Linked DNA regions of Homo sapiens. The protein of the gene in region 5 purifies or fractionates together with the protein of the main gene of each other region. This does not show direct contact. Each region holds a gene or a part of one and is shown on either strand. Other genes may lie near its edges.

Evidence for each region.
Region 1: the proteins of CD200R1 (region 5) and KIF2A purify together in Homo sapiens (co-immunoprecipitation; one large-scale study listed by IntAct). This does not show direct contact.
Region 2: the proteins of CD200R1 (region 5) and IPO8 purify together in Homo sapiens (co-immunoprecipitation; one large-scale study listed by IntAct). This does not show direct contact.
Region 3: the proteins of CD200R1 (region 5) and IPO5 purify together in Homo sapiens (co-immunoprecipitation; one large-scale study listed by IntAct). This does not show direct contact.
Region 4: the proteins of CD200R1 (region 5) and XPO4 purify together in Homo sapiens (co-immunoprecipitation; one large-scale study listed by IntAct). This does not show direct contact.
Region 6: the proteins of CD200R1 (region 5) and NCR3LG1 purify together in Homo sapiens (affinity purification with mass spectrometry, with the first as the bait; one large-scale study listed by BioGRID). This does not show direct contact.
Region 7: the proteins of CD200R1 (region 5) and IPO11 purify together in Homo sapiens (co-immunoprecipitation; one large-scale study listed by IntAct). This does not show direct contact.

Annotation. Positions count from the first base shown.
Region 1 is NC_000005.10:62,308,947-62,313,445, reverse strand, and holds part of KIF2A (kinesin-like protein KIF2A), read right to left. Parts: intron 1-4,499. UniProt on the Homo sapiens protein: Plus end-directed microtubule-dependent motor required for normal brain development. May regulate microtubule dynamics during axonal growth. Required for normal progression through mitosis. Required for normal congress of chromosomes at the metaphase plate.
Region 2 is NC_000012.12:30,678,581-30,683,079, forward strand, and holds part of IPO8 (importin-8), read right to left. Parts: intron 3,238-4,499; coding exon 3,079-3,237; intron 2,059-3,078; coding exon 1,902-2,058; intron 1-1,901. UniProt on the Homo sapiens protein: Involved in nuclear protein import, either by acting as autonomous nuclear transport receptor or as an adapter-like protein in association with the importin-beta subunit KPNB1.
Region 3 is NC_000013.11:98,015,627-98,020,125, reverse strand, and holds part of IPO5 (importin-5), read right to left. Parts: coding exon 4,485-4,499; intron 4,401-4,484; coding exon 4,345-4,400; intron 3,398-4,344; coding exon 3,275-3,397; intron 1,642-3,274; coding exon 1,422-1,641; intron 546-1,421; coding exon 317-545; intron 1-316. UniProt on the Homo sapiens protein: Functions in nuclear protein import as nuclear transport receptor. Serves as receptor for nuclear localization signals (NLS) in cargo substrates.
Region 4 is NC_000013.11:20,794,076-20,798,574, forward strand, and holds part of XPO4 (exportin-4), read right to left. Parts: intron 2,983-4,499; coding exon 2,689-2,982; intron 2,182-2,688; coding exon 2,001-2,181; intron 1-2,000. UniProt on the Homo sapiens protein: Mediates the nuclear export of proteins (cargos), such as EIF5A, SMAD3 and isoform M2 of PKM (PKM2). In the nucleus binds cooperatively to its cargo and to the GTPase Ran in its active GTP-bound form.
Region 5 is NC_000003.12:112,933,604-112,938,102, forward strand, and holds part of CD200R1 (cell surface glycoprotein CD200 receptor 1 isoform a precursor), read right to left. Parts: intron 1-4,499. UniProt on the Homo sapiens protein: Inhibitory receptor for the CD200/OX2 cell surface glycoprotein. Limits inflammation by inhibiting the expression of pro-inflammatory molecules including TNF-alpha, interferons, and inducible nitric oxide synthase (iNOS) in response to selected stimuli.
Region 6 is NC_000011.10:17,361,658-17,366,156, reverse strand, and holds part of NCR3LG1 (natural cytotoxicity triggering receptor 3 ligand 1 precursor), read right to left. Parts: intron 1-4,499. UniProt on the Homo sapiens protein: Triggers NCR3-dependent natural killer cell activation.
Region 7 is NC_000005.10:62,485,423-62,489,921, reverse strand, and holds part of IPO11 (importin-11), read right to left. Parts: coding exon 4,460-4,499; intron 2,152-4,459; coding exon 2,061-2,151; intron 621-2,060; coding exon 573-620; intron 1-572. UniProt on the Homo sapiens protein: Functions in nuclear protein import as nuclear transport receptor. Serves as receptor for nuclear localization signals (NLS) in cargo substrates.

The DNA.
Region 1 (4,499 bases), on a different chromosome or scaffold from region 5:
AAGAGGCAGAGGTTGCAGTGAGCCGAGATCACGCCACTGCACTCCAGCCTGAGCAACAAGAGCGAGACTCCCTCTCAAAAAAAACTCTGAGGCTAAATTCATCAGGAATGCTATGAGGGATCACGGATATTGGTCATAGAGGAGGAGAGATGGCATATATGACATGTATTTTCCATCCAAAAGGTCCATAACTTCAAGAGTCTAACAAAAAAGCCTAATCTTCAAAAGGAAGGTAGTAATAATGTACACACAAAATGGCATATTTCTATCAGTACTAATCACACTATAGATGAATCACTTATTTACTTGTTTGTGAGGGCAGGAACTATTTTTGCTTTATTCATTTTTTGTATCTCCAACACCTATCAGAATGCCTGATATATAGCAGGCTGTTAATAGAAGTATATTCAATGAAATCTGCAATAAAAAAAAAAGAAACATAAGACCACATTATTTTGATATGTCATAATCACTTAAGGTCTATACTCCAAAATATCACACACCCTAGTGAATGACCATCTGAACTTCGTGTTTTATTGTAGTGGGTAATGATATCATAGTGCACTATAACCTCAAACTCATAGGCTCAAGCAATTCTCCTGCTTTGGCCTCCAAAGTGCTGGAATTACAGGCATGAACTACCATGCTCAGCCTAGAAGCATGACTTTTAAAAGGAACACTTCCCTCACTCATATTACTCTTGGGAGATAGTTTAATATGGTGAAATTCTAATGTCTCTTTTCACTTAGCACTATAAAACCACTAATATTGCTTTATCTAAAAGAGCTGGAAGACAACTTAACCTGTATTTGTTCTACAACTGAACCAGAAGAATAAAAATTAGTTTTATCCAAGGTTTAAAACTTGTATCTATTCTTAAGAATCGTAATCTCAAAACAAACAAACAAATAAACAAACACCTTAAAATTATTTTAGGTTACAAAACAGATGTGTTAAAATTAAAGCAGATGGCTGAATCCAAGAATTAAACTTTGCAAAAGATTAATGTCATATTAATCACAACTATACTTCTGACTAGAAAGAACGGGGTCTAGATGATCTCTCAGGGAATCTTGTTCTGGATTTTCCACACTCTTGCCCCTTGTCTTATTTGAGCAGACACAGATTTAACTGGCTCTTTGCTGTTTTCTCTAGCATTTTAACAATCATGACACATAAAACAAGTTGACACATAGCCTTTCCCCAGAGTTTCAAAATCTTTGTCATAAGAATCAAGTGGCTAGGCAATGAATACAGATTCCTGGCTTTCTGTGGTACTTTTGGAAGCAATAAGTGCCTATTTTAAGTTTTTTGAGCTTCTTTGGTAGTAGTGGAAAGAATTTTACTACAGGGGTTTGTATGTCTCAGAAAGAAATACTAAAGTATACAACTTCACACCATAATCAGCAAACATCTGTCAGCAGCACTTAGAGAGCTGGGAGTGAAGGGATTCGGGCTTTGGCCCAGGCTATGCTCCTTATTAACCATGTGATCTTGGCAAATAATCCAACCTCAGATTCTTCACCTATAAACCAATAATCTGCCACCTTTCTATCCTGCTTACCTCATAGAGTTCCTGTGAAGATCCAATTAGCTAACATGTCTTGAAGCACTTGGAAAACTATTAAGCCCTAACAAATCCATATACAGAAACATTATCGTCCTAGTCCTCAGGGAAAAGGGAACTATTAGGTCACAAATGCCCCTATTCCATCCCACCCCCATAATCAATCACATAATTGTACCTAAAGAACAACTGTATTGCCACATGGTTCATCTTTATTACTTAAATTTACACATGCTATTCTCCAGAAGCCTATATAGTGACGTGTAAAGATGAACTAGCAGAAGAAAAATGTGGCAAAGCATATAAAGAATTAGGCCATTTAAAATCTTTTCTAAAGATTTTCTTTGCCTGCCCTGAACTCCAAAATTCCTGATGGGTCCTTTGAAATCTTCAATTGCCTCTTGATTTCAGATGTTAAAAGGAACTCTTTACACCAATACTTAACTAAGAAACAAGAATACTTTCCTCCCACAATTTTAGGTTTGGTGAACTTGTAGTAACATAGCACTTCTTACCAGGGATCATTCTAATCAAGCTCTGTAACACTGCTCGCTGGTGCCTTTCTCCGAAGTAAGAAGCAATTTCCTACATCTTGACTGGGCTGTAAAAAGCGGTATACGGTTCCAAAATAACAGAGAATTCCTCCTTTACTGTCATAGTTCTTGATAGTCTGATTTCTATGCTAAGCATGTCAGGTTCCTGGCTGCCATTGACAAGTTGTATGAATCTAGATAAGTCACTTATGGTGATCTGGGACTCAAGTTTCCACATTTATAAAAATGAAAACTAGTTTATCTCCAAAAACCTTTCTGGTGGAAATATTCTAAGATTCTCTTCAGATTACATGTATCAATACAGTCACAGTACTGTGACTAAGAGACCCGCCCCCAAAGAACAATCCCATATTAGCTGCAGCTTCCAAATGTTCAACATTTCCCATTTCTTCCCCAGTCCCCAAAGGGTAGTCACAGCTACTACAGAACTGTTAACAGCACAGCTAAAAGAAAAAAAAAACCAAACTAGCTACACGACAGAAAGATTGTAGGTTTTTTTAAGAGTCAGTGGGTTTTAAAAAGGGAAAGGAATTGAATCAGAAAAATAGGAAGACACATGTAAGAAAACACACCAGTCCAATTTCATACCAGGTTATCTCCTGTGGCAGAGAATAATCTTAGCAGTCCAAGCCTAACCCCTGTCACTGATAACCTTAGAAAACCAGAAAAGTCAGATTAACCTTAGCAGATCACTCAATTTCAATTAACGCTGTAGTTCCTGACTAACAGGCCAGCGGGAAGTAGAGGGCCAGAGTAGGGAGGTAGCAGTACAGAGGAGCACAGATGGAAGGTTTCACTTCCAGCTAAGATGTCATTCTAATGATTAATTAAAATGTTTGAAAACAAAAAATCCAATAATGTATGATTTATTCAAAAACGATGTGCAAGGAATTTTGCTAGACATCCCAGTAGTGGGGGTGGGAATGGGGGTAATGACACAGATGCATTCAGGGAATTTAAGAGTCATTAGAGGCTGGGCACAGTGGTTCACACCTGTAATCCCAGTACTTTGGGAGGCTGAGGTGGGTGGATCACTTGAGGCCAGGAGTTCGAGACCAGCCTGGCCAACGTGGCAAAAACCTGTCACTACTAAAAATACAAAAATTAGCCGGGCATGGTGGCACACACCTGTAGTCCCAGCTACTTGGGAGGCTGAGGCATAAGAATCGCTTGAACCTGGGAGGCAGAGGTTGTAGTGAGCGGAGATCGCACCACTGACAGAGCGAGACTCTGTCTCAAAAAAAAAAAAAAAAAGAATTATTAGTTATTAGTAAGTCCCATTACCCCATGCAGTTTAAAAACATAGTATTAAGAATATGTACCCATAGGTATGAGCTGAGAGGAGTGGAAAAAAAAAAGTTACAGACCCAAACATTAATACTTAAGGAAATATGCTGTCTCATGAATAATACAGAATGATTTAGGAATTCAGATGCTGACTGGCCATCTGGTTTTAGTAATCAGTGAAGACTCATTAGGATAGTTTTCATCATGGTCTTGAAAGATAGGAATAAGCTCATTTTAGTGTACCTGTTTGCCCTTGGGATATGTTTATTAGTGTAAGAGTATCACTGATGGGAAAAGTGTGGTCTGAAATAGGGACATGGATCGCCATCAGCAAGCCAAAAGAAAAACATCAAGTCACCAGTTAATAATGGTCTGAAGCAGCCCTTCTTTACTCATGTCATTTCTACTGTCTCAGATATTAGTGTTCCTCCAACTGCAAAGTTTATTTTTGTTATAATAACCACTAGTGTTTTATCCAATATAGACGTTATGGAAGTGAGAGGAAGCAAACAAGCTTCTTTAAAGTGAAAAAGGGAAAGCTTGAGGGGCATTCTCCCAGACATCAATTTCTATTGTGAAACACTACTGTCCAATGCAAATGATCCTTCTGTTCTTTCGAAGTTCTCTACTAATCTCCTGCCTTCCACCAACTCCATCATGCATCTGAGGCACATAAAAAGATACATGACCATAGGTTAGGATAATAACACACTGTGATGACTTCCCTAATTTCTTATAGGCAAACCGCTTTTGAAATGTGGCTTTAGGTTAGTAGCACTTATGTAAGAACACAAAGCTCTTGTATGTCTGGGAACTTCTGGTATAGGCTGAAGGTGAAGGCTGAAAAGAACGAAAATTGCTTCAAGTTCAATAAATTTAAATAAAATATGCTCCGTAGAAATTAAAATGTATAAATCAAATATCATATACTTTTTCTGATACGATTTCAAAGTTAACACCTATACTCATACTTATGAGTGTAAAGAATTTACACATTTTATTGCACCCTAATTTTTTAAAAAATAAATTTCATTGTGCAACTGAGGTTTACAACATGATGCTATGGAATATAGACAGCAAAATGGTGAAGC
Region 2 (4,499 bases), on a different chromosome or scaffold from region 5:
GAATGCATCCCCAAAGTTAAGTAACACATGACTGTACATGTACAAAGGTAGGAATAAGAGAAGAAGGTGAGGAGATGAAGGGCTTTATGGGCTATATTAAGAAGTTTCAAATGCACTTTATTCTAAGTGCATTTGGAAGCCATTTGGATTTGATATAGGGAACAGAGGAGAAGTAGGCTGAGGGTTAGGCTGAGCTTATGTATAGAATATCCAAGTGTCCTGTACAAATATTATGCTACTTAGACAAGATCTGTTGTATCATACTTTTATTTTATTTGAGGCGGAGTCTCGCTCTGTCACCCAGGCTGCAGTGCAATGGTGCAATCTCAGATCACTGCAACCTCCGCCTCCTGGGTTTGAGCAATTCTCTCACCTCAGCCTCTGGAATAGCTGGAATTAGAGGCACCCGCCATCATTTCTGGCTAATTTTTGTATTTTTCTAGAGATGGGGTTTCACCATGTTGGCCAGGCTGGTCTTGAACTCCAGACCTCAGGTGACCCACCCACCTTGGCCTCCCAACGTGCTGGGATTACAGACCTGACCCACTGCACCCGGCTGCTCATACTTTTAAAAACAAAATTGTCTGCTCCTTCTCATATTATCGCTTTTTACTTATGTCAGCATTGTAATAGTGGCTCCTAATGCCTTCTAAATTTCTACTTCCCAGAGGAGAATATTAATGTATTAGTACATAACAGATTACCAAAATGGTTAAAAATGTTGAGGTTTTCCAGGTTTTTAGCAAGTATAGACTGAGAAAAATATGAAGATTCTGTCGTCTTAGCAAACCAATTAGAGGTAGAGGCTTTAGAAAAATTATTTCATTAGCCTTTGTCTTACTTCCCAATTTCTAGCTGTTTCTGCCAATAGAAAAAGGAAGTCTGGCCTCTGAATATTATTTCAAAACAAGTGAGAGAACATATTTTCCTAGTATTCTAGTTTCTTCTCTTCTCACATTTGCCTCCTTCCCTCTTCTCTTTCCCTGCAAAAAGGCTGCTCTGGGGGAAAAAAAAAAATATCTGCCTCAGACTATCCCTATTAAAAGTTTAAAAGGGGAAGCTTTAATAAAAATATAAATCTTTATTAAAGTAAAATATTTTGAAATAGTTTAAGTATCTAAGTCAATAAAAAGCCAAGGATGGATCCAAACTATCATGGTTTTTGAGCTCAACAAAACCATCCTCTTCTCACGACAAATTCAACTAGAAAGCATGTAATAGAGTTTAATTCATTCATCAAACAGTTAAGACTGAAAACAATTATTCTTCCTCCAATCAGACCTAAATAATTTACCCAAATCTTTCAAGGATTTGATGTTAAATATTTTTATATTTCAAACATATTCCATCTCTATCTTCTCATTTCTTTCCGGATTCCCATGTTGGTATCCCTTATAGCATTCAGATTTTTTTTTTTTAGGCAGTATTTTAAACCAAGGAAAATGAACCCTAAATCCTCTGTTAGCTTTGAGTCAAATGCAAAGAAACTACCATCAATATGATTTCCCAATAGAAGAGGGACTCCCTTCTTCTTTTCCTTCTTCTTTTCCTTCTTCTTTTCCTTCTTCTTCTCTTGTAATCATAACTAATCTATAGGCAGGAATGCTACAGAACAGATAGTTGCGAGTAATCAGGTTTTAGAGCAGGTAGGTTTACCTACCCTGGTTCTGCTTTACCCATGATTTCAGACACTGGAGTGAAAAGCACTTAGGGGCAGATATGCCATTGAGACGATCTTGGGTAATTAATTTCTGTGAACCTGTTCCTCATAAGCATTTTTTAAAGAAATATATGGGATAATACAAAATAATTTTTAATAATAAGTGACACTTATTGAGCACTTTCCATGTGTCAGGCAGAAATACAGGACTCCATGTTTGTTTTCTGCAATAGAAACCTACCTGAACAAGTGCATAAAAGATTTTCAGAATTTGTTTCTGCAGTAATACAGAATAATAGGAGGAATCAGGAAGGAGCTGAACAATTTGTTGCTGAATACGAGGCAGGAATATCTGCATTGCTATTATAAGAGGTTCTCTCTCTTCTGCTTTCTTATATCTACATGAGCAAAGACAAAAACAGAAAAGTAATTTTTCCCACCCAAAGAACCATCAACAATAAATTATAAAATATTTTTTAAATACATAAAACTAACAAAACAAAGTCATTAACATTGGCTTCTAGTTTGTTTGAATTGCTAGAATTAAGTTGAAAAGAAATTTAAAATAACACATCCTGTTTTAGGCACAACACCTAAAATCTTTCTGGAAAGATTTAGACTAGTTTAAAACAACCCGAGACCATTTTGCAGTTTTCCTACATGAATGTTTCTAGTATTTAAATTAATTTTCATCCAGCCAAAATTCTTACTATAAAATATAAGTTGCTATGCTATTTTAAATAGACTATATAACAAATAATATGGGGGGAATTTTCTTATTATATTTCTCCCTGAATTGAGTAGTTAAAATAGTTTAAAATTTAGGTGCTCTTAGATTGCTTTAATTGCCATAAATCTAAAATATGTTCTATAAATTTCATAAGCAGAGTAGGAACTAGTCAGTTTAAAAGGAGAACTACAGGACTTCATATACACATGTAGCAATCTTCCTAGAAACCAGAAAGCAATACTATTAAGTGTGATATTAGTCCTCTACCTACCCAAGCTACTTTTATGGAAAAGAATGTCATTAGCAAAGAAACGTTAACATTTTCTATCTTGCATCCAAAAAAGTAAATGTTTTGGTTTACTTAATATACTCCCTAGAAGACAAATATAAAGGTATCTCTATATCAGAGTTTCCAAGGAAAGCTGTTAATAAATGGTACTGTGCAACTAACAAGTTTGAGAAGTGCTTCATATTATATCACTGTCTCAGAGGTTAGCAATATCCATCAGCACATTAAAGTTTCTTTCAATAACTGCAGCAAATAAACACATTTAAGCATGTTTAACCCAACATTTCCCAAACTAATCTGATAACCTGTGCAGAACATCCACAACAGACCACTCTTTGCAACTTCATTATTTCTAAGTTACACAAGGCTGCTTTCTTCAGCCAATGGAAACCAACTTACTCATATGTCTTCACCAGTTGATACAGGCATAATAAACTGCCAAGCCAGCTTGCACTGCTCTGTGATTGCAAGTAATAGTCTATCTTGTCGACCACTCCTGGCCAGTGACCAGGAAAATCATGTTTTATGATGGCACGGAGACACATTGTTAATTGGACTCTACAAAGTAGGGAAGAAAAGTCCAAAATCTAAGTAATTATAAATACTGTGTTTCAAAGACCTCTAATATTTTACATAAAAGTTTGTTATCTTCTATTTACGTGTATTATATACTTACATATGTGGGGTAGGGGAAAAAGACATATCTAAAAAACATCCTCAGTGGCTCAACTTGTTGAAAATAAACAGAATGGGTGAGTTTCTAAAATGAATGAAACCTTTCAAACTATCTTATCCTAAATACAGTTTAAAAAAATTGTTTTAAATAGTTTAAAATTTTCAAAAAACTCCAATGAATCTACCTCCACTCTGTAAAATTTCCAGCTTATTATATCTCATATTTTGGTTACCATATCCTGAATGGGGGAAAAAATAACACTTCAAACAGATAAACCTAGTCTAAAGATGGTACAAGTAAGTACAAAGAAGGCCTACATAATGGTGGGAAGCTTCTCTATGGGCCAAAACCTTGAACTCATCCATTATCAATTAAAACCCAACATCGTATGTTGAATCTATCCAAAGCAGTCTGAGATACTAATTTTTGTACCCCAAGTATAAGAAAGAAACATGTATTATTAGCGAGGCAATTCCTGAAGAGGAGAGCTAAGAGCTATTTCCAAAGAAATAAATGAAAAAGGCAACAGAAGAGACATAAAACAGAAAAAGAAAATATTCCTTTAATAAAACCACAAAGTTAAATGCTAAAATAAGTTATCTGATAACATAGATAAGTAATCATTTCCTCAATGAGATTTCAACTTTAACTGGAACTGAAAAGAAAATAGGGGGAAAAATTTCTTTTCTATAAACTATCAATTCAATGTTATCACCAAATATGACCTTACATGACATTTTCAAATGGTTAGAAAACAAACTTGGCAAAATTAGGATTCCACAGGGCAACTAAAAAAAAAATAAAGCATTTTCAGTTGAACAACCAGTAACTCAGATTCACTTAAACTGGTAAAATTAAACAAAATGATGCCTTTTCTTCACGTTATCAAATCTATTTGAAAAATCCCTTTGTAATACTCTTAAACTTTGAGAATAGGTGGAAGAAATTTCAACAATGATTATAATTAAGCCTTAAGGACATAAAAGGAGCAAAGCCACAGAGAACCGTCCCGTAATAAAGATAAAAGATCTCCTTTAGTGCCAGTAGTAGCTGCTCCTTTAAACAATAAATGTCATATTTGTAAAAAATAAAACTGAAGCTTTTCATTTTTTAAAATTTCATCTTCAGGTTGATTCTCCCAGTC
Region 3 (4,499 bases), on a different chromosome or scaffold from region 5:
ACCTGCCTGTGCAAAACAGTTAAGACCTTGTCGCTACCAAAAAAATTTAAAAACAAAGAAATAAATAATTAAAGTGCCTCATCTGTTGAATCTAATTTCATAAAGAATAACTCAAAATTAGACCTTATTATAAGGGCAATGTTAACTGTGATATGGTTTCTTAATATGATTTATAAAGACAGCACTATTATAAACCTATACAACTGAGGACTGTGCAGAGATCATGTGGTTAAACCTTAAAAGACTGATGTTAGGCAAGAAAAACCAGGAAGCACTGTGGAGGAGAAGGAAATAAGGTCACAGTCTGCTTTCCTACCTTTCAATCAGGTCACACAGATAATTGAAAGTCTGAACAGCTTCTTCTTTATCTTCATGTAGTGGAAGCCAAGACAACCAGTGTGGAAGGACCTCTTCAACGTTTACACAGTCAGGCTTGAACTTCATGATTTTCCCTACTGCTGAGATGCAGTTCTCTGTAGCATTGACATTTTCTTTGGTCTTAGAATCCGCAGACTGAATAACTCTTACCAGCAGGGGAAGTGCTTCTAAAATAAGCATTTGAAAGAAGTTCAGCTAAAACCTCACATTTTCATGCAAATGAATATATGTATTTTTGTATTTGGTTCAGATATTGATTATGGTAAAGAAATGTTAAAGTGTATGGGAAGTGTTGTCTTCTTGGCTATGTCATTACAGAATGGCAACAGAGGGGGGACTGCCCCAGCATGGACAGGAGCACTAGCCCTCTACTAACTTAGAGACCCAGAGAGATTAGTGGCCTCCAGATTTACAGTACTCATCACATCACCCGAGGGTCCTTAAACTTTAAAAGCTGCCTAACTATATTCCCCAGTAAGTTTTAAAAGTCCTATTCTGCCAGGTGTGGTGGCTCACGCCTGTAATCTCAGCACTTTGGGAGGCTGAGGTGGGCCGATCACGAGGTCAGGAGATCGAGACCATCCTGGCTAACATGGTGAAACCCCATCTCTACTAAAAATAGAAAAAATTAGCCAGGCGTGGTGGCATGCGCCTGTAGTCCCAGCTACTCAGGAGGCTGAAGCAGAATTGCTCGAACCCGGGAGGCGGAGGTTGCAGTGAGCCGAGATCATGCCACTGCACTCCAGCCTGGGCCTCAATTAAAGAAAAAAAAAAAAGTCCTATTCTAAGGCTGTTGTATATTGCCAAAACGCAAAGAGAAATGCACCCTGGAAGGCTGGGGGCAGGGGATGTCTTTGATTCTATTTCTATGAGAATAAATCATCTTTTTATCATCTAAAATCCTAAATGCTACAGATGAGATGTCTGAAAACAGACTACAGCAGAAATAGGCAAATAATGTTTGGGAGTGTGGTAAAGAGAGTAAAGTAGGGATTCACAGGATGTCTGGAATGAAATGCACGTAACGGAATAAGCAAACGTACCTGTACAAAAAGGGCGATAATTATCTCCACCGTACTGTGCCATGACTCCCAGGCCATATGCAGCTGCTTGCCTGACTTCTGGGCTGTTGTCACATACATATTGGAGCATTGGTCTTAAGAAATATTCTGCGTATTTAAATGAGGCTGGACTACAGTGTTCTATGACATCATCAAAGATGCATAATCCCCATTGTCTGTCTGGCCATGGTCTATGTGGACACTACAAAAGAAATTCTCTTTTAAGCTTCAAATACTGGTGTACACAAAGAATGTAAAGAAATATTCACTATAGACTATCTGCTTACATTGATATTCCTCATACAGGCAAAAGAAAAAAGAAAACATAGTAACAACCACTTCTTGTGACCAACGATATTCAATCAAATACACAGATTTAATAAAATTTAGGTTTCAAAGACTTGTATGATTTGTTACAGAACTCTACAATCTGACACTATCACACAGAAGAACTGACAGTGGAAGCATTGTATATAAATTTACTTTGTAAAAAAGACAATGGTAATGCTACATTAAAAAAATACAATAATAATAAAAGCTGCAAAGATCTTAACTTATAGCATTTATTCAACAGGCTAAGTCATGTGTGCCCGAATCTTTTAAAAAATGTACTGCACTACTTAATACAATAAAATGCAAAATTGAAAGCCAAAAAGAAAAATTCCAAACATCTGATGATAGCTGCTAATTTATAATATATTTTTTAAAAACCGAATACACAGCCAGGCGAGGTGGCTCACGCCTGTAATCCCAGCACTTTAGGAGGCCAAAGTGGGCGGATCACAAGGTCAGGAGGTTGAGACCAGTCTGGCCGATATGGTGAAACCCCATCTCTACTAAAAACCCAACAAAAAAACACAACTAAAAATACAAAAAAACAAAACAAACAAAAAAACTGAATACACATAGGCCATTATATGATGTGTTGATGTAGGTCCATAACAGAAACACATGTATCTACTACTGTGATGGGGGGTGTTAATGGTGCTGAGGCCATGCACGCACAGGGGCAGAGGCACATGGGAAATCTCTGTACCTCCTGTTCAATTTGGTTGTGAATCTAAAACTGCTTTAAAATAGGAAGCGTAGGCCTGGGCGCAGTGGCTCATGCCTGTAATCCCAGCACTTTGGGAGGCCGAGGCGGGTGGATCACTAGGTCAGGAGTTGGAGACCAGCCTGGTCAACATGGTGAAACCCCATCTCTACTAAAATACAAAAAATTCGTCGGGTGTGGTGGCGTGCGTCTGAATTGCTTGAACCCAGAAGGCGGAGGTTGCAGTGAGCCGAGATTGCACCACTGCACTCCAGCCTGGGCGACAGAGCAAGACTCCATCTTGAGAAAAACAAACAAACAAACAAACAAAAAGAAGTCTATAAAACATTTTAAAAAAATCAAATATAAGGGTGAGAGAAGGTAAAAAAAAAATACATATATATATATATATGCCCATTATCCATAATCCATGATTGCTGGTAGTACATAACAAAGATAATTGAATTATCTATGGTCCACTAAAAAAGAAGTAACCATTCTGTTTCCTTTTATTAATTTAGGAGGGCACAGATAATCTGAAATAATAAAAAAAATCACTTATATATCTTTCAGATGTGTTAGAACTGAATTGGCCTATGGAAAACCAAGTTAGGAATCTTCAAGCATATAATGAATGAGAAAATATCCAGGGTAATGCAGTCAACTTGATAAAATCAAAGATGTACAATGGAAACAATCATTTCTGAGACCCATTTTAACTTCAAGCATTAGATTTTACGTTGCAGTGAAAAGAATTCCAGGTAAACTACGCAAAACAACTATTAAGAGAGGTAACACTTACAATGAGGTTGACAATTAATGGAAGCAGCTGTTCAAACCATGGTAACACCTTTTCTTTGTAGCTACTGAATATTGAGTGTAAAATATCTGACACTTTGGTCAGAATATAAACATCATTATCATCCTAAAAAAAACATACACATAAACACTCATATGGATTAAAAAGTATATTTTCTATTATCAATAGTAACATTTATAAAAACCTTAAAAAATGCAGAAAATCAATTTCTCATTCCTGTTTTAAGGGTAAATCAAGAGTCTAGAGACCGGAGTAACCCTCAAGTGTGGGTTATCATGTCTCTTACTAATCAAAGGCCAGTCTTACCTCGAAAGACAAAGGTGTGTGGCAAGAACTGTATTTATTGCAAAGATTTTCCTTGGAACATACTTAAAATAGATGGGTTGAAAAATTATCTCTAATTTCTACATTCTGAAACAAAGGTGTTTTCACTATTTTTACTTTGTTTTCAGCAGAATAATCCTCATTTCGGGGTGGATGGTGGGGAGAATGGGGTCTCGCTGTTAGTGGCAATTTGGGCCTACAAGCATGTGGGCACCTTCAGGAAGCTGGTACTACCTACACGGTAGCACTGGCCCACCAAGTGGCCACATATGAGATGCTGGACTCTAAACACACAATGAAGTATGCTTGACAGTCCTAGGTGGTTTGATGAGAGAACTAAGTAACATGGTGAAAAAGGCCCCAGACCGTCAACAGTGTGACTCTAGGCAATCATTTAACACTGGAATTTTAGGTTACTCATCTTTAATATAGTGAAAGCACCACAAAATACAAATGGTTGTTGTGAGCAGTATGTAAATGAACTAGGTAAACCTCAAGGTGTTTTGTTGAGTGAGGTATTACAACAAAATGCACATAGCACCGAAAGACATATCAGTTTAATTTCAAATTACTTATTCATAAATTAAGAGAGGAAATATATCTGACTCCTCTGCTAAAGACTGATAATTACATCAGAATGACAAGTCACATAAATCAGAAATTGAGGCATTTACAAGTCTTTCAGATGCAAGTGGTCACGTAAGTAAGTTCCAAAGGGAATAACTTACCTCATCTTGTAGTGACTCTTCGACCTGTTCATCATAGTCTTCATCTTGTCTTTTAACTAAAACACACCCAAATAAATGTTTTAAATGATTGCCAAGATGGTCAAGGATTATATTCAGAAATAAAAGCATGGAAAACTTACCTTGTCGTAATTCTT
Region 4 (4,499 bases), on a different chromosome or scaffold from region 5:
TTTGATAGGATTATAGAATATTCTAGAAATGTGGACTGTCCCTTCTCCTTTCTCTTATTAACGCTGCCCAGCGCTGGGATCTACTGTAGTACTTAAGTAGGTAGGAAACACGATGGAATCACTATTTTAGGAAAATTATTCTGAAAATAAGACAAATCTGGTAGTATGTCAGAAACAACTAGGAAACTTAGTCAAAATATAGATTTCTAGAGTTAGTAGGTCTGCGATGGGGCCTGAGTGGGGGCATAGAATAAGAATCCAAGAAAATGATGATACTATTTCTAGAAATGAAAAAATTGAAACAATGAGCTGATTTATGATACACAGAGTAATCATGACAGTAAATCATCTAAACATATACATGTTTTAGCTCTGGGTCCTAACATTTAGTTACAGATTCCTCTGGGGACAAGATTCTTAACCTGGGTTCCTGACACACCTGGAAAATGTATAGAAGAGTTTCCAGGAGTCCATGAACCAACTAATACTGTATTAGTAAGAGGTTAAGAATGCTGGGCACAGTGGCTCACACCTGTAATCCCAGCACTCTGGGAGGTTAAGGTGGGAGAATAGTTTAAGCCTGAGGTTGAGGCTGCACAGAGCTGTGACCATGCGACTGCACTCTAGCCTGGATGACAGAGGGAGACCCTGCCTCTCAAACAACAACAAGGAAAGAAAGAAAAAGTTAAGAACTCCTGGATTAAGCAGAACTGACCTGAAGAAAGTTAGAAAACTTGGGTGAAAGGCTGGGCCTAAAAACAGACCAGAAAGAATTCACTGAGGAAAAGTGAATTTGTACAGTGCTTTTCAGACTATCTCACCTTGGTACCCCTAGTTAACTGCAAAAAAAATAAAGAGTAAACCTTCTACACTGTGAAGTTGATGGTACCTAGCTCAGGGCAGATATTGGAAAAACCGTTGCCCAAGAATTTAAAAAAAAAAAAAAAAGACATGGTCCAGTGAATAAGGAATACGAAAAAATTAAGGAAACAGAACAATCTCAAGGATTGGGATAAATAAGTCAAGTGGATATTATAGCACCCAACTTAGAAAGAGAATCTTACAAGGAAGAAGCCAAAAATGTCCACTACCACACGTGTCTGCACAACATATAATAGGAGAGGCTAGATATGATTCATTTTTCTGTCATGAAACAGGATCCATTTTGTTTGAAGTCAAGGTTGGCAGTGAGATAGGAGGGGAGTGAACTCTACAGCACTGAAAACTATACACATATATGAGGTTTAAATTACTGATCAGGTTCTTGCCTGTAACAGCAACTATCTTTTACCTACTGATTGTCAGACACAATGCTAGGCACCAAAGACACTTTACAGCTGATCCTTCAAACACACTGAAAGGTATTTATTATCATACCCATTTGACCAGCTAGTAAAGACACAGGTAGGCTAATCAACTCCCCTCACATCATACTGTAGGTGAGACACTAGGCTAGGTCTTCAAAGTGTGGGCTGTTAACTCCAGAGAGAGTGCTTCCTACACCAACAGGGCTTTCCAAGCCACACTCTGGAAAGTGCTAGGGTTTCTGGGGTGGCCACCGTGAGGAACATGGAGAAGTGATTAGTCAGGAAGTGTAACTCTGAAGAGACTGGCATCTGGAGTCACAGGCTGGGATTTGAATCCCAGTCCTGGCTAAGTATCTGTGGCCAAGTGACTTAAGCTCTCTGTGCTTCTGTTTCCTCATCTATAAAGTGAGAATAACAATGGGATTGACTTCATACCATTGTGAGAGGTAAGAACAGTGCATGGCATTTAGTAAGATCTCAATGAATGAGAGATACTATTTCTATTATTCTTACAAGAGGAAAGGCAAGCAGGAGGGCCACTGGTCCTCACCCTCACTTTGACCACAAAGATCTTCTTTCATTTATTCCATAAATTGAATTTCCTCATGAGATGTCTCTTACAGAAAACAATCCTTTGATTTAATAAAAAGGAGGATAACAACAAAGTTTAAAAACCATCACGTTACATTTTACCTGTATCACTGAAATCTATGAATTCTTTTGACAGCAGGTTAGTAAGAAGTTCCATAATGAGAAGCAGGTCTTGGTATTGCTCTTCTTCTGCTGTAACATCTATTCTTTGCCGCCCTAAATTATTCTTAGAATACACTTGCAACAAAGTAAGGCAGGCTTCATATAAGTTCATAGCTTTGGACTGAAAAAAAAAAAAATGCACAAATTATGCTACTTGGTACACTGACATTAAAAAAATTTTAAAATATAATCTATATAAATTAACTCCGAATTCCAACAGTAGCAATAATTCTTGCTTTAAACTACATTAAAACAATAATTTCTAGAAAGCATATATTAAGAGTATATTTTTTTTAATTTTACCCCTTTTCTAACAAAATTTTAGGACAAGAATTTATATTCAGGTGCAGCAAACCACCATGGCATACATATACCTATGTAACAAATCTGAACGTTCTGTATATGTATCCTGTTTCCTTTTAGAAGAAATTAAAAAAAAAATTTACATTCATTCAACATGACTTTCTCTAAATTATAAGTTCTTTTCAAAAATCTTTTTTAAAAATCTTTTGAAGGAATAAAAATATTATTTAAGATAATACTAATCAAATTTTAAGCAAAGATCTATTATTTTATTACAGCTTCAAAGAGTTTTAATCCTGAGGGGATAAAATTAGAAAGTGCTTACCTCTCCAAGATAGCATATCTGTTTATGTGCAACTTCAACAAAAACTTCTATAATGAGATTGACAGTCTCTGGGGTATTCTTGTAAACTTCCATCAATCCAATGCAATTGGTAAGGAAGTCCATTAAAAAATTAAACAGGATTGCTACGTTGTCAATCTGGGTAGCCTCAGCAATGCCACACAGGGCCTCTAGTGTGGCAGTGATTTCCTGCTTGACTTCCTCTTGCTGACACATCTGCTGGAAGTTTTCTTGGTTTATCACTCTTAAGAATCGCTGCTGAAGTGGCTGAAGAACCTATAAAAATAAACCAGGAATTTTCTTAAAGCTCAGTTCTCATGCTTTATTTCCTCTGCTTGGATACATATTCACTTTCCAAAACATTTCTAATTGTTGGAGGCAGGACAAGCACATAACAAAGAATATCTAAACCAGACTTTACACTCCCCATTTTGAGGGTCATCCTAACTTTCCGCTCATGTAAAGCCAGAACACCCAAAGCATGGGACATAACTGTCTCCCTGCCATTCAAAGAATTCTGCCATTTCCCTCCATCTCTTTCCAAGTAATGAGTCAAAAAGGAAAAAAAACTTTGTTTACAAAATCAGACAGTAAGCCACATTTGGCCCATGGGCTGCAGCTTGCCGACCTCTACAGAGTGAAGCCCAATTCAAAGTTCTTGTCTGTTTTTTTCCTTTTTCCTTTACCTAATTCCTCTTGGCACAGAACGTAACTTCAGATAATCAGTCCTGCCCTGTATATAAGAGTACTCATATTCAAGAGGACAGTATCTTAATTCGACTTTAAGTTGTCCATATGATAATACAATTGTTTAAAATAAAAATACTTAGTCAGTCTGGTTTCCCCTGGATTTGAAGTCACAAACAACTGCCTAATTCCATTACTGTGCCCCTTCTCAAACACTAAGGGCCCTCTAGACAAGGACTGCAGGCTGGCAACCTACACACACTGGCAACTCTTGGCCCTTGATTTAAAGCCTATTAAATAATGTGCCCATGGTTGTTGTTATGGGTCAAACTGTGTTCCTCAAAAACTCATATGTGGAAATCCAAACCCCAGGATATGAACTTATTTGATAATAGAGTTGGCCGGATGCAGTGGCTCACACCTGTAATCCCAACGTTTTGGAAGGCTGAGGTGGGCGGATCACTTGAGGTCAGGAGACCAGCCTGGCCAACATGGCAAAACCCCGTCTCTACTAAAAATACAAAAATTAGCCAGGCATGGTGGTGCGCACCTGTAATCCCACCTACTTAGGAGGCTGAGACAGGAGAGTCGCTTGACCCAGGAGGTGGAGGTTGCAGTGAGCCAAGATCACACCACTGCACTCCAGCCTGAGTGACAGAGCAAGACTCCGTCTCAAAAAAAAAGAAAATAGGGTTGTCATAGATGTAATTAGTTCAGATGAGGTCATACCGGAATAGGGTGGGCCCCTAGTTCAATATAACTGATATAGAAAGGGGAAGTGTGGATGCAGACACACACAGGGGGAGCATGTGAAGATGAAGGCAGGGATCAGGGTGATGCGTTTACAAATCAAGGAATGCCAAAGACTGCCAGCAAGCTACCAGAGGCTACAGATTTTCCCTCATAGCCTTCAGAAAGAACAAATCCCATGGACACCTTATAGCTTGGACTTCTAGCCTCCAGAAGTAGGAGAAAACAAATTTCTGTTGTGGTATTTTGTTAGAGCAGCCCTAGGAAATGAATATCATGGTTAATCTGCATCTTATTCAAGACAGGAGAATATTTCCCTGATCCCTAATGAAAATTTAATAAGCCAGTCCATGCTC
Region 5 (4,499 bases):
CAAATCAACCCAGTAATTCTCCAGTAACATAACCAATTATAAGGCAATATATGAAATGCCAGAAGAAGAATTCAAAATAATAATCTTAAGGAAACTCAATGAGATAAAAGAGAATACAGATAAACAATTCAATAAAATCAGGAAAACAATTTGTGATTTAAATGAAAAATTCAACAAAAAGATAGCTATCATAAAAAAAGAGATTTTAGAGCTGAAGAAGTCAATGAATGAAATAAAAAATACGATTTTTCAACAACAGCATAGAAAACGTAGAGGAAAGGATTTCTGAACTTGAAGACAAGTCTTTTGAAATAATACATGAGGATTTTAAAAACAAAAAGAAAAAGAATTTTAAAAAAATAAAGTTTACAGGATTTAGGAGACATCAGTAAGCAAAAAACATTCACATTATAAAAATTCTGGAAGGAGAAAAGAAAGAAAAAGGCACAGAAAACATATTTAATAAAATAATAGCAGAAAACTTTCCAAGTTTTGGGAGAGAGAGAGAGATTCAGATCCAAGAAGTTCAAAATTTCCCAAATAGATTTAACCCAAATACATCCTCTCTAAGGAATGTTATAGTCAAATTATCAAAAGGCAAAGACAAAGGAAGAATGATAAAAACACGCAAGAGAAAAGCATCAAGCCAAATATAAGGGAATCCCCCTTATACTGATAGCAGATTTCTCATCAGAAACCTTATGGGCCAAGAGAAAATGGAGTGATACATTCAAAGTACTGAAAGAAAATAACTGTCAGTGAATATTATATCCAGAAAAACTATCCTTCAGAAATAAAGGCAAGACTGTCACCAAGCAGAAAAAAAAAATCAATAAAATGACAGATGTAAGTTCTCATCTATCAAATAATCTTGAATGTAAATGGATTCAATTTCCCAATTAAAAGATATAGACTGGCCAAGTGGATTTAAAAATATAAGACCCAGCTGGGCATGGTGGCTCACGCCTGTAATCCTAGCACTTTGGGAGGCCAAGGAGGGTGCATTACCTGAAGTCAAGAGTTTGAGACTAGCCCGGCCAACATGATGAAACCCCATCCCTACTAAAAATACAAAAATTAGCTGGACATGGTGGCGGGCACCTGTAATCCCAGCTACTCAGGAGGCTGAGGCAGGAGAATTGCTTGAACCGGGGAAGCAGAGGTTGCAGTGAACCAAGATCATGCCATTGCACTCCAGCCTGGGTGACAAGAGCGAAACTCCATCTCAAAAAACCAACTATATGCCACCTACAGGAAACTCATCTCACCTGTAAAGACACACATAAACTGAAAGTGGAGTGGAAAAAAGACATGCAAACAGAATCCAAATACAAGCAGGAGTAGCTATACTTACATTAGATAAAACAGACTTTAAGACAAAGGCTATATAAAAAAGAACATTATGTAAAAATAAAGGAATTTATTCAGCAAGACGACATAACAATTGGAAATATATATGGACCCAATGTTGGAGCACCCAGATATATAAAGCTAATATTATTAAAGCTAAAGGGAGAGATAAACCTCAAAGCAATAATAGGTGGGGACTTCAACACCCTACTTTCAGCATTAGGCAGATGATCTAGACAGAAAATCAAGAAACATTGGATCTAAACCACACCATAAATCAAACAGACCTAACAGACCTTTACAGAACATTTTATATAACAGCTGCAAAATACACATTATTTTCACCAGCACATGGAACATTCTCCAGAATTGACAATATGTTAGGTCACAAAACAAGTCTCAAATAATTTTTAAAAATTACAATCATATCATCTTATGTGACCACAATGGAATAAAATTAGAAATCAATAACAAGAGGAACATTTGAAACTATACAAATACATGAAAGTTAAACAGCATGTTCCTGAATGACAAATGAGTAAAGAAAGAAATTAAGAAGTTTAAGAATTTCTTGAAACAAATGAAAATAGAAACACAAAATACCAAAACCTAAGGGATACAGCAAAAGCAGCATTAAGAGGCAAATCCATAGCAATAAATCCCTACATCAAAAAAGTAGTAATATTTCAAATTAACATCCTAACAGCACATATTAAGGAAGAAAACCAGGAATAAACTGAACCCAAAATTAGTAGGAGGAATAAAGATCAGAGCAGAACTCAATGAAACTGAACCTAAAAAGAAATGCAAAAAACCAACAACAAAAAAGTTTTGTTTTTTCTGTTTGCAATATTTTAACTTCAGGGGTATATAGGTAGGATGTGCAGGTTTATTAGGTAAATGTATGCCATGGTGATTTGCTGCACAGATCATTCCATCACCGAGGTATTAAGCCCAGCATCCATCAGCTATTCTTTCTGATGCTCTCCCTCCTCCCACTCCCCACCCTCTGACAGGCTCCAGTGTGTGTTTCCACCCTCCATATGTCCATGTGTTCTTATCATTCAGCTCCCACTTATAAGTGAGAAAATGCACTGTTTGGTTTTCTGTTTCTGCATTAGTTTGCTGAGGATAATCTAATCACCTCCACCTGCATCCATGTCCCTGCAAAGGACATGAACTCATCTATACATGGCTGCATAATATTTCATGGTATATATGTACCACATTTTCTTTATTCAGTCTATCACTGATGGGCATTTAGGTTGACTTCATGTCTTTGCTATTGTGAATAGTGCTGCAATGAACATACACGTGCATGTATCCTTAAAATGGAATTATTTATATTCCTTTGGGTATATACCCAGTAATCAGATTGCCGAGTCAAACAGTATTTCTGCCTCTATGTCTTTGATGAATCACCACATTGTCTTCCACAATGGTTGCACTAATTTACACTCCCACCAACAGTGTAAAAGTGTTCCTTTTTCTCCATAACCTCGCTAGCATCTGTTGTTTCTGGACTTTTTAGTAATCACCATTCTGACTGGTGTGAGATAGTATCTCATTGTAGTTTTGATTTGCATTTCTCTAATGATCAGTGATGTTGAGCTTTTTTTCATATGTTTCTTGGTTGCATGTATGTCTTCTTTTGAGAATTATCTATTCATGTTCCTTACCCACTTTTTAATGGGGTTCTTTTTTTCTTATACATTTGTTTAAGTTCCTTGTAGATGCTGGACATTAGGCCTTTGTTAGATGAATAGATTATAAAACTTTTCTCCCATTCTGTAGGTTGTCTGTTTACTCTGTTGATAGTTTCTTTGGCTGTGCAGAAGCTCTTTAGTTTAATCAGATCCCATTTGTCAATTTTTGTTTTTGTTGAAGTTGCTTTTGGCATCTTTGTCATGAAATCATGAAATCTTTGCCTGAGCCTATGTCCTGAATGATATTGTCTTGATTTTCTTCTAGGGTTTTTAGAGTTTGGGGTTTTACGTTTAAGTCTTTAATCCATCTTGAGTTGATTTTTGTACATGATGTAAGGAAGGTGTTTTACTCTGCTCTCATGCTGCTAATAAAGACATACCCAAGACTGGATAATTTATAAAAGAAAGAGGTTTAATTGACTCATAGTTCAGCATGGCTTGGGAGGCCTCAGAAAATTTACAATCACGACAGAAGGGGAAGCAGACATGTCCTTTTTCACATGGCAGCAGCATGGAGAAGTGCCAAGCAAAAGGAGGAAAAGCCCCTTATAAAACCGTCAAATCTCATGAGAATTCACTCACTATCATGAGAACAGCATGAGAGTAACTGCCCCCCATGATTAAATTACCTCCCAGCAGGTCCCTCCCATGACACATGGAGATTATAGAAACTACATTTCAAGATGAGATTTGGGTGGGGACACAGCCAAACCATATCAGAAGGGGTCCACTTTCAATTTTCTTCATATGGCTAGCCAGCTGTCCCAGCACCATTTATTAAATAGGGAATCCTTTCCCCATTGCTTGTTTCTGTCAGGTTTGTCAAAGATAAGATAGTTGTAGGTGTGCGGTGTTATTTCTGGGTTCTCTATTCTGTTCCATTGGTCTATGTGTCTGTTCTCGTACAACTACCATGCTGTTTTGATTACTGTAGCCCTATAGTATAGTTTGAAGTCAGGTAGCATGATGCTTCCAGCTTTGTTCTTTTTGCTGAGAATTGCCTTTGCTATTTGGGTTATGTTTTGGTTCCATATGAATTTTAAAACTGTTTTTTCTAATTCTGTGAACAATGTCAATTGTAGCTTAATGGGAATAGCACTGAATCTATAAACTATTTTGGGCAGTATGGTCATTTTCACAATATTGATTCTTCCTATCCATGAGCATGGACTGTTTTTCCATTTGTTTGTGTCATCTCTGATTTCTTTGAGCAGCAGTTTATAGTTTTTCTTAAAGAGGTCCTTCACTTCCCTTGTTAGTTGTTTTCCTAGGTATTTTATTCTTTTGTGGCAATTGTGAATGGGCGTTCATTTATGATTTGGCTCTTGTCTTGTCTGTTGTTGGTGTATAGGAATACTAGCAATTTTTGCACAATGATTTTGGATCCTGAAACTTTGCAGAAGTTACTTATCAGCTTAAGAAGCTTTTGGGCTGAGATGATGG
Region 6 (4,499 bases), on a different chromosome or scaffold from region 5:
GGGCTGGCTACATTAGTGTGAAAGAAAAATAAACTGCCATTTCCAAAGCCACTATTGACTTCCAGGTTTCCCTCTCACATGAGAGGTCATCACTCCCACCCTATAATAAGAACAAAAGCTGAACAAATTGAAAATCAACAGCTTTTCTTAGATTCCTCAGAGAATTGAAGTGACAGGGCAAACTGCCACTCAGAAAACTGGAGAAAGAAGGAGATTAAGAAAATTACAGCTAAGATCAAATCACCTCATGCAGAAGCTGCTGGAGTCATAAACCAGTAGAAGTACTTAAGCAGTAACTCCGACAAACTGCTAAAGGATGAGTGTGGACTAGCTTGAGAATAAAAACCTCCTCAGGTCCTGGTCTTAGGGATGCTTACCACACTTTCATGGGTTTTCATCCTCGGGACCCAGTCTTGGGGATGCTATCACACTGTCATGAGTTTTACTTCCAGGAACCCCACCAGATTCTCACAGTAAAGAGCCAAGAAAAATCTCCTCCTCTTTCTGGGGGATGGAAAGAAGTAATCATTTTAAAATATACCTAGATTATTCCCTCCATCTCAAGGGAAGATGTCAGAGCCTTATCTGACCTGAGAGAAGAAAATTAGCCAACTCCAGCTGTCTATAGCCTTTCTGTATTACTTAAGAAGAGAGAAAGAGAAAAGGCTAAGAAACACTTCTGAAGGCCACAGTCCAGAGGCTCAGGCCACTAAAAGAATAAGATTTAATCATAAAAGTATAAACAGATTCTCCTCCAACACTTTACTACCACATCAACAGGGCTCCAGTATAATAACAGAAGATTATAAGTGAGAGAGCTACAAGGCACAGAACCTATTTAAGGAGTTCATAAGGAAACCCAAAGACAATAGGAAAGGAGAGAAAAAAACACTAGAGAAACTGAAGTCTCTGGCACCTATAGCTACAATAAGCATTAAACACAACCCAGCTCCTAGCCAAATTAACATAAGGCCGCATAATAAAAGCCTATTACCTGATACATAATATCTCTCTTTCAACTAAAAAATTACAAGGCTAAAAAATACATAAAAACAAAGCAAACATCAGACCCAGACTCAGGTATGACACAGATTTTAGAATTATCATATAGGGAATTTTAAAAAACTATAATTAAAATGTTAAGAGCACTAACAGAAAGAGCAGATAACATGCACAAACAGATGGATAATATAAGCAGAGTGATGGAAATGCTAAGAACGAACCAAAAGTGAATGCTAGAGCTCAAAACACCATTAAAGAAATGAAGAATGCCTTCAGTGGGTTCAACAGTAGACTTGAAACTGACAAGGAGGCTGAACGCAATGGCTCATACCTATAATCCCAGCACTTTGGGAGGCCGAGGTGGGTGGATCACCTGAGGTCAGGAGTTCGAGACCAGCCTGACCAATATGGAGAAACCCCATTTCTACTAAAAATACAAAATTAGCCAGGGGTGGTGGCGCATGCCTGTAATCCCAGCTACTTGGGAGGCTGAGGCAGGATAATCACTTGAACCCAGGAGGCGGAGGTTGCAGTGACCTGAGATCACGCCACTGCACTCCAGACTGGGCAACAAGAGCAAAACTCCGTCTCAAAAAAAAAAAGAAACTGACAAGGAAAGAATCAGTGAGCTTGAAGATGTTAATAGAAACTTCCCAAACTGGGCACGGTGTGGTGGCTCACACCTATAATCCAAGCACTTTGGGAGGCCAAGGTGGGCAGATTGCTTGAGGTCAGGAGTTGGCGACCACCCTGTCCAACATGGCAAAACCCCGTCTCTACTTAAAAAACAAAAATTAGCCAGCATGGTTGTGCACACCTGTAGTCCCAGCTACTCAGGAGACTGAGGCACAAGAATTGCTTGAACCTGGGAAGCAGAGGTTGCATTGAGCCAAGATCCCGCCATTGCACTCCAGCCTGGGATACAGAGCAAGACCCTATCACAAACAATTTTTAAAAAAGAAACTTCCCAAACTGAAATACAAGGAGAAAAAAGAATTTAAAAAAAACCCCAGAATAGCCAAGAACTGTGGGATACTGCAAAAGGTGTAACAGATATATAATGGGAATACAAGAAGAAGAAAAGAGAAAGGAGCAGAAGAAATAATTTGAATAAATAATGGCTGAGAATTTTCCAAAATTAATGATAGACACCAAACTAAAGACCCAGGAAGCTTAGAGAATACCAGGCATGATAAATATCCAAATATGCCTATCCACGTCTAGCCATATCATATTTCAACTTTAGAAAGACAAAGATGGCCAAGCATGGTAGCTCACTCCTATAATCCCAGCACTTTCAGAGACCAAGGCAGGTGGATCACTTGAGCTCAGGAGTTCGAGGCCAGCCTGGGCAACATAATGAAACACCATCTCTACAAAAAATACAAAAATTAGCCATGCTTAGTGGCACCCGCGTGTGGCCCCAGCTACTTGGAAGGCGGAGGTGGGAGGATCACTTGGGCTTGAGCCCACTAGGGTGAAGCTGCAATGAGCCGTGATCATACCACTGCACTCCAACCTGGGAAACAGAGTGGGACCCCATCTCAAAAGAAGAAAGAAAGAAAAGAAAAGAAAAGAGAGAAAGAGGAAGGAAGGAAGGAAGGAAGGAAGGGAGGGAGGGAGGGAGGGAGGGAGGGAGGGAGGGAGGGAGGGAAAAGAAAGACAGAAAAAAGTCACAGGAAAAAAAACACACCTTACATATAGAAGAACAAGAACAACACTGGACTTCTTGTCAGAAACAATGCAAGCAAGGAGAGAGTGAAGTGAAATATTTAAAGCATTGAAACTTAAAAAAGAGAAAAACACCAACATGGAATCTTATATCCAGAAAAATTTTCCTTCAAAGGTGAAGTATAAATAAAGACTTTCTCAGACAAACCTTTCACCAATAGACCTGCTGTGCGAGAAACATAAAAAGAAGTGCTTTAGTGGGCCAGGCATGGTGGCTCATGCCTGTAATCCCAGCACTTTGGGAGACCAAGGTGGGAGGATCACTTGAGCCGAGGGAGTTCAAGACGAGTCTGGGCAACATAGACTCCATCTCTTAAAAAAAAAAAAAAAATTAAATTAGCAGGGCATGGTGGTGCATGCCTGTGGTCCCAGCTATTCCAGAGGCCGAGGTGGGAGTATCGCTAGTGCCCAGGAGGTCAAGGCTGCAGGGAGCCATGATCGCACCACTGCACTCCAGCCTGGACAGCAAAGCAAGACGTTGCAGGAAGAAAGGGAAGAGAAGGGAAGGGAAGGGAAGGGAAGGGAGGGGAGGGGAGGGGAGCGGAGGGGAGGGGAGGGGAGAAAGAAAGGAAGGAAATGAAGAAATGAAGAAAGGAAGAAAGGAAGAAAGAAAGAAAGAAAGAAAGAGAGAGAAAGAAGGAAAGAAGGAAGGAAGGAAAGAAAGAAAGAAAGAAAGAAAGAAAGAAAGAAAGAAAGAAAGAAAGAAAGAAAGAAAGAAAGAAAGAAAGAAAGGAAGGAAGGAAGGAAGGAGACACTGAGTCAATAACTAGTAAAAAAAAAAAAAAAGAAGAAGAAAAAAATCACCTTCCAAAAAGGAAAGCACCAGGTTCGGATGGTTTCACTGGTTAATCCTACTAAACATTTAAGGAATAAATAATGCCAGTTTTTTACAATTTCTTCCAGAAAGTAGAAGTAGACAGAGGGAACACATTCTAACTTATTCTACAAGCCCAATATTATCCTACTGCCAAAACCGCATAAAGACATTACCAGAAAAGATAACTACAGATCAATATCACTCATTAAAGTAGATACAAAATCCTCAAGAAAATATTAGCAAATATAATCCAACAATACAGAAAAAATTACATACCATAACCAAGAGAGGCATATTACACATATGCAAGGCTGGCTTATCATTCAAAAATTGGTTAATGTAAGTCATCATATCAACAGGCTAAAGAAAAAATTATATGATCATACCAATAATGCAGAAAAAGTATTTGACAAAACCCAAGACTGATTCATATGAAAAACTCTTAGCAAACTAGGAATAAAAGGGAAACTTCCTCAACTTGCTAAAGAATATCTACCAAAAAATAGCTAATATCATATTTCATGGTTAGAAAGTAAAATCAGAAATGGACAAGATGTCCCTTCTAACCACTCCTGTGCAACATTGTAATGGAAGTCTAAGCTAGCATAACAGGACAAGAAAAGGAAATAAAAGGTATAAAGTTAGAATGGAAGAAATATGAGGCCTGGTACAGTGGCTCACACAATGTAATCCCAGCACTTTGGGAGGCCAAGGCAGGGGGATCACTTGAGCTCAGGAGTTCAAAACCAGCCTGGGCAACATAGTGAGACCTCACCTCTGTAAAAAATAAAATAAAATAATGGAAGAAATAAAACTGTATTTTTAACAGACAGCCTGATTTATGTAGAAAAATCTCAAGACTTGGCCAAAAACAAAAACAAAAACAAAAACAAAAAAATCCCTAGAATGAATAAGTGATTAAAGCAAGTTGCAGGATACAAAGTTAATA
Region 7 (4,499 bases), on a different chromosome or scaffold from region 5:
CCTTACTACTTTCAAACAGATAATTCAATTCATTCTAAAATATTTAAGTCCAACTATAAAAATTATAAAATAATGCCTGCTTCTAAAATGGATGTAATATTTTATGATCTGGTCCCTACTTAACTCTCTCCAGCCTCAACTCAACCTTTAACCCCAATGTTCCAGTTAAACCAAAATAGTCACAATTCAAATTCTAACTGTGCTTCCTCCTCTTTCCTTCAAGTCTTTGTACTTATTGCTCCATCTCCCTGGAATGCAACACCCTCTTTCCATCACCACCTCCTCACACGTGTAACTCCTACTTATCCTTGTGTTCTTCCATTACACTTCTTTGGGAATCTTTCCTTAGACACACCAAACTATCTGGTGATCATCACCTACTTTAGCATTAACTATCCTGTATAGTATTATTATAATACATTATCTGTTTACTTGGTTATCTCCCCAATCAGATTGTTCCTGTATTTTAGTTACTCTTGTATCTCAACACCCTCAGCACAAAATCTACCACAAAACAGACTCTCCATCTACTGAATAAATAAATGCTTCTAAATCACTTAAGTTTAACATACCAGCATCTTTGATTAACAGTGCATTCATATCTTCCACATTTGTGGGTCCTAAAAAATATATATATAAATAGGTATCAGTAAAAGCAAATAAAACTAGTTTTTTAAAAAATTTATATTTAAACACAATTTGTTAGTTTCCCAATTCAATTAAGTATAACACATTTCATGGTGTCAAAAATGGACACAAGTACAAAGGGAAAGTCTAAGTTTTATGATTATCATTAGAGAACACAGGATTAAAAACCATTATAGCATATTTGAAAAATGTTATGACAAGCAATATTCTAGAAAATATACACCACAAAATGCTAATGTGCTATATACCACAAAATTATTTTTTTTGAGACAAGGTCTTGCTTTGTCACCCAGGCTGGAGTACAGTGGAGTGAGGTTTTCTCAGTTCACTGCAGCCTCATCCTCCTGCGCTCAAATGATCCTCCAACCTCAGCCTTCTGAATAGCTAGGACTACAGGTACTAACCACCAGGCCCAGCTAATTTTCCTAATTTTTGTAGCGACAGGTTTTTGCCATGTTGTCCAGGCTGGTCTGGGACTCCTGGGCTCAAGTGATCTGCCCACCTCAGCCTCCCAAAGTGCTGGAATTACAGGCGTGAGTCACCATGCCTGGCCAACACTCATTCTGACAACATGCTCTTCTCTAGGATACACCACTACACCTGGCATTTTTACAAGGCTTTTATTTACTCATATCCCTATAGGTGAAAATCTCAGGTTCTGTCCTTAAGATCCTCTTTTCTTTTCCCAAGGCTCCTTACATACATGCACTCCGAAAGTATATCTCTATCTCCTACCACTTCTAATGAGGTAACTGTTTCCTTGTCATTAAGGCTCAAAAGTTTAGGATCATCTTTGATCACTTTTCCTTGCCTAGCACATTCAATCGGTTGCTAAAAGTCAATCAAGTAACAATAGTTACTGAATATGCCCAGCACTGGGAATAAAATATAAACAAAACAGACGTGATCAATGCCCCTAGGACTTACAGTCTAGCAGAAAAGACAGAAATCATAAATCAATGTTAGTTAATAGGCAGATAATTAGTTACTTGTGTACAAAGTGTAATGACCAAGTGTCAAAAATTTACATCATCATTTTCTCTCAAATCCATAATCAATTATTTCCATTCCCACTGCCACCATTCTAAGAGAGGCTAACACTATTTTAACCTTTTCTCACTATTTCTCACAACACGCTCCAGATAGACTTTCTGCAAGCAGTATGACTACTGTTTTGCTTTTGCTTCTATTGTATTTACTACAGGAAAATTTATCATCGTCCAAACTATAATTCAAGGCCTATCTCAAATGCCACCCCCTTGGAAGATAATAAGTTTTAAAATTGTTTTTCTCAAATTCATATTTATTATATGACCCAGGAAACAGTACAGTATGCATTGTAGGCACTCAGACTATTTCTTAACTAAACGTTAAAGAGATTAACTCAAAGTTAATCACAAAATATGCCTTACCTTGAAGTGTTTGCATCATTTCTAGAAGTACAGGAGTAAGAGTCTGATTATATTCATGGAATATATCTATAAATAATACTTCAGTGCATGGCTGGAGAGGGAAAAATACAAATTTCTCATCAAAACAGTTGCATACTATATTGACTAATTCTTTAATAAAGCAAATACTTAATCTTAAAATTCTAAAACTTTGAAAATGTTTCCAACTTTTGATTTGTTAAAAAAAAAAAGTAAGGTTACCATTTTTTTATAACCAACACAAAGGAAAACAAAATCGAATTATAATTAATAAAAGAAAGTTGATTTCATTTCAATTATTTGTCATTACGCATTCAAAAACTTAAAACTATGGCAAGCAAAGTGTACATTTTAAATTAATCATACCTTAAATTTAAAAAGCATTCTGTAGCCACTCATTTATAGCTCAGTACTATAAATGGCTGACTACCCAAGATTCTTTTTTTTTTGAGACACAGTCTCACTCTGTCACCAGGCTGGAGTGCAGTGGTGTGATTTCGGCTCACTGCAACCTCCACCTCCCAGGTTCAAGCGATTCCCCTGCTTCAGCCTCCCGAGTAGCTATTATGTATTTTCTTAGCAATGATATAATAAGCAAAAACAGGAACTCCAATTTGCCAAATAAAGTAGCCTTTCTCTTAACAAACACAAGCGGTAACAGAAATTAGCATTAGCTACATTTAAAAAAATGATTTGTTTGGTTCTTAAAAGTACTGAATCATTTCACATTGCATGCTGGTATCAAAACATCTCATGTACCCCATAAATATGTACACCTACTATGTACCCACAAAAAATTTTTTAAAATAATTTTTTATTTAAATTTTAAAAAGGAATTTAATCACTAGATCGTTCACAATATTTAAATTTTTTAATTAAATTTTTAAGGTATTGTGTGGTGTTTTAAAAGGAACATTATAAATATACACACTGAAATATGGTCAGAGGATGTGTCATCTCAGATAACCATCAACACTGGGAGATGTTTACAGGAAGCTAAAGTAGCCATGAGTTGATAACTAATAAACTAGCTTATCATGAAGGGCTCATTATATTATTCTATTTTTTAATATGTTTAAACTTCTCCATAAAAGAAACTTTTAAAAATTAAAGGAATGAAATTTTTTAAAGTTTTAAAATCACCAGTAATCTCTCTGGTTAACAACTGTATGTTTATGAATCTAAAAACATTAAAGATAACATTTTTAGAAGACAAATAGCTAATTATGTAAATTATGTAAGTGCAAATCTTAAAAAGAAGAGCTCAAACATCACATCTGGTAACGGCAAAACATTTGTCATATTAATAAATGCGTTGTAAAAGTATCCTATAACTGAAAGCAATGGGCTAGTCTCTGAGAATCACATGAAGTGGTAAGAGAAATAACATACCAAAAGAAACTTTACTAATGAAATATATAGAAGGAAAAAATTCTAGCTTAAGAATGGCAGCTTTCAGTTTGACAAACATTTTCTATTTGTGTAATGACAATTATTTCCCAAGCAATGTACTAAAAGATGAAGAAAAAATTTGTTTTCCGACCCCAAGTTAAACAAAAGAAAAGGCCAGGCACAGTGGCTCACGCCTGTAATCCCAGCACTTAGGGAGGCCGAGGCGGGTGGCTCACGAGGTCAGGAGATCGAGACCAACCTGGCTAACAAGATGAAACCCCGTCTCTACTAAATAAACAAAAAATTAGCTGGGCGTGGTGGCGGGCGCCTGTATTCCCAGCTACTCGGGAGGCTGAGGCAGGAGAATGGCATGAACCCAGGGGGCGGAGCTTGCAGTGAGCCGAGATGCACCAGTGCACTCCAGCCTGGGCAACAGAGTGAGATTCTGTCTCAAAAAAAAAAAAAAAGAAAAAGAAAAAAGAAAAAAAACTCAGATTAAACGTCATAATTTAATATGAATATAGTTCTTAGTTTCTTATAAACAGTTTCTTATCTGTCTGACTTAATGTTGGGAATCTTTAATTTTTTTTTTTTTTTTTTTAAGAGACGGGTTTTGCTTTGTAATCCAGGCTAGAACGCAGTGGCATCATCATGGCACACGGCAGCCTCAACCTCCTGGGCTCAAACAATCCTCCTGCCTCAGATTCCTGAAGAGTTGGGACTACAGGTATGCGCCACCACTCTGGTCTAATTTTTTTTTCCTTTTTTTACTTTTTGCAGAGACAGGGTCTCACTATGTTTACCAGGCCGGTCTTGAATTTCTGGCCTCAAGCGATCCTCCCACCTTGGCTTCCCAAAGTGCTAGGATTAAAGTGTGAGCCACCATGCCCAGCAAATGTCTGGAATCTTTAATAGAGTGTCATTCTCTACTAAGAGCTTTAGAAAGATTAAGCTTTCCCCTATCAATTTTTCTTGCAATTAATACTTACCCTCAAACTATATTTCCAAGAATCTCCTCCTGTTTCTTCC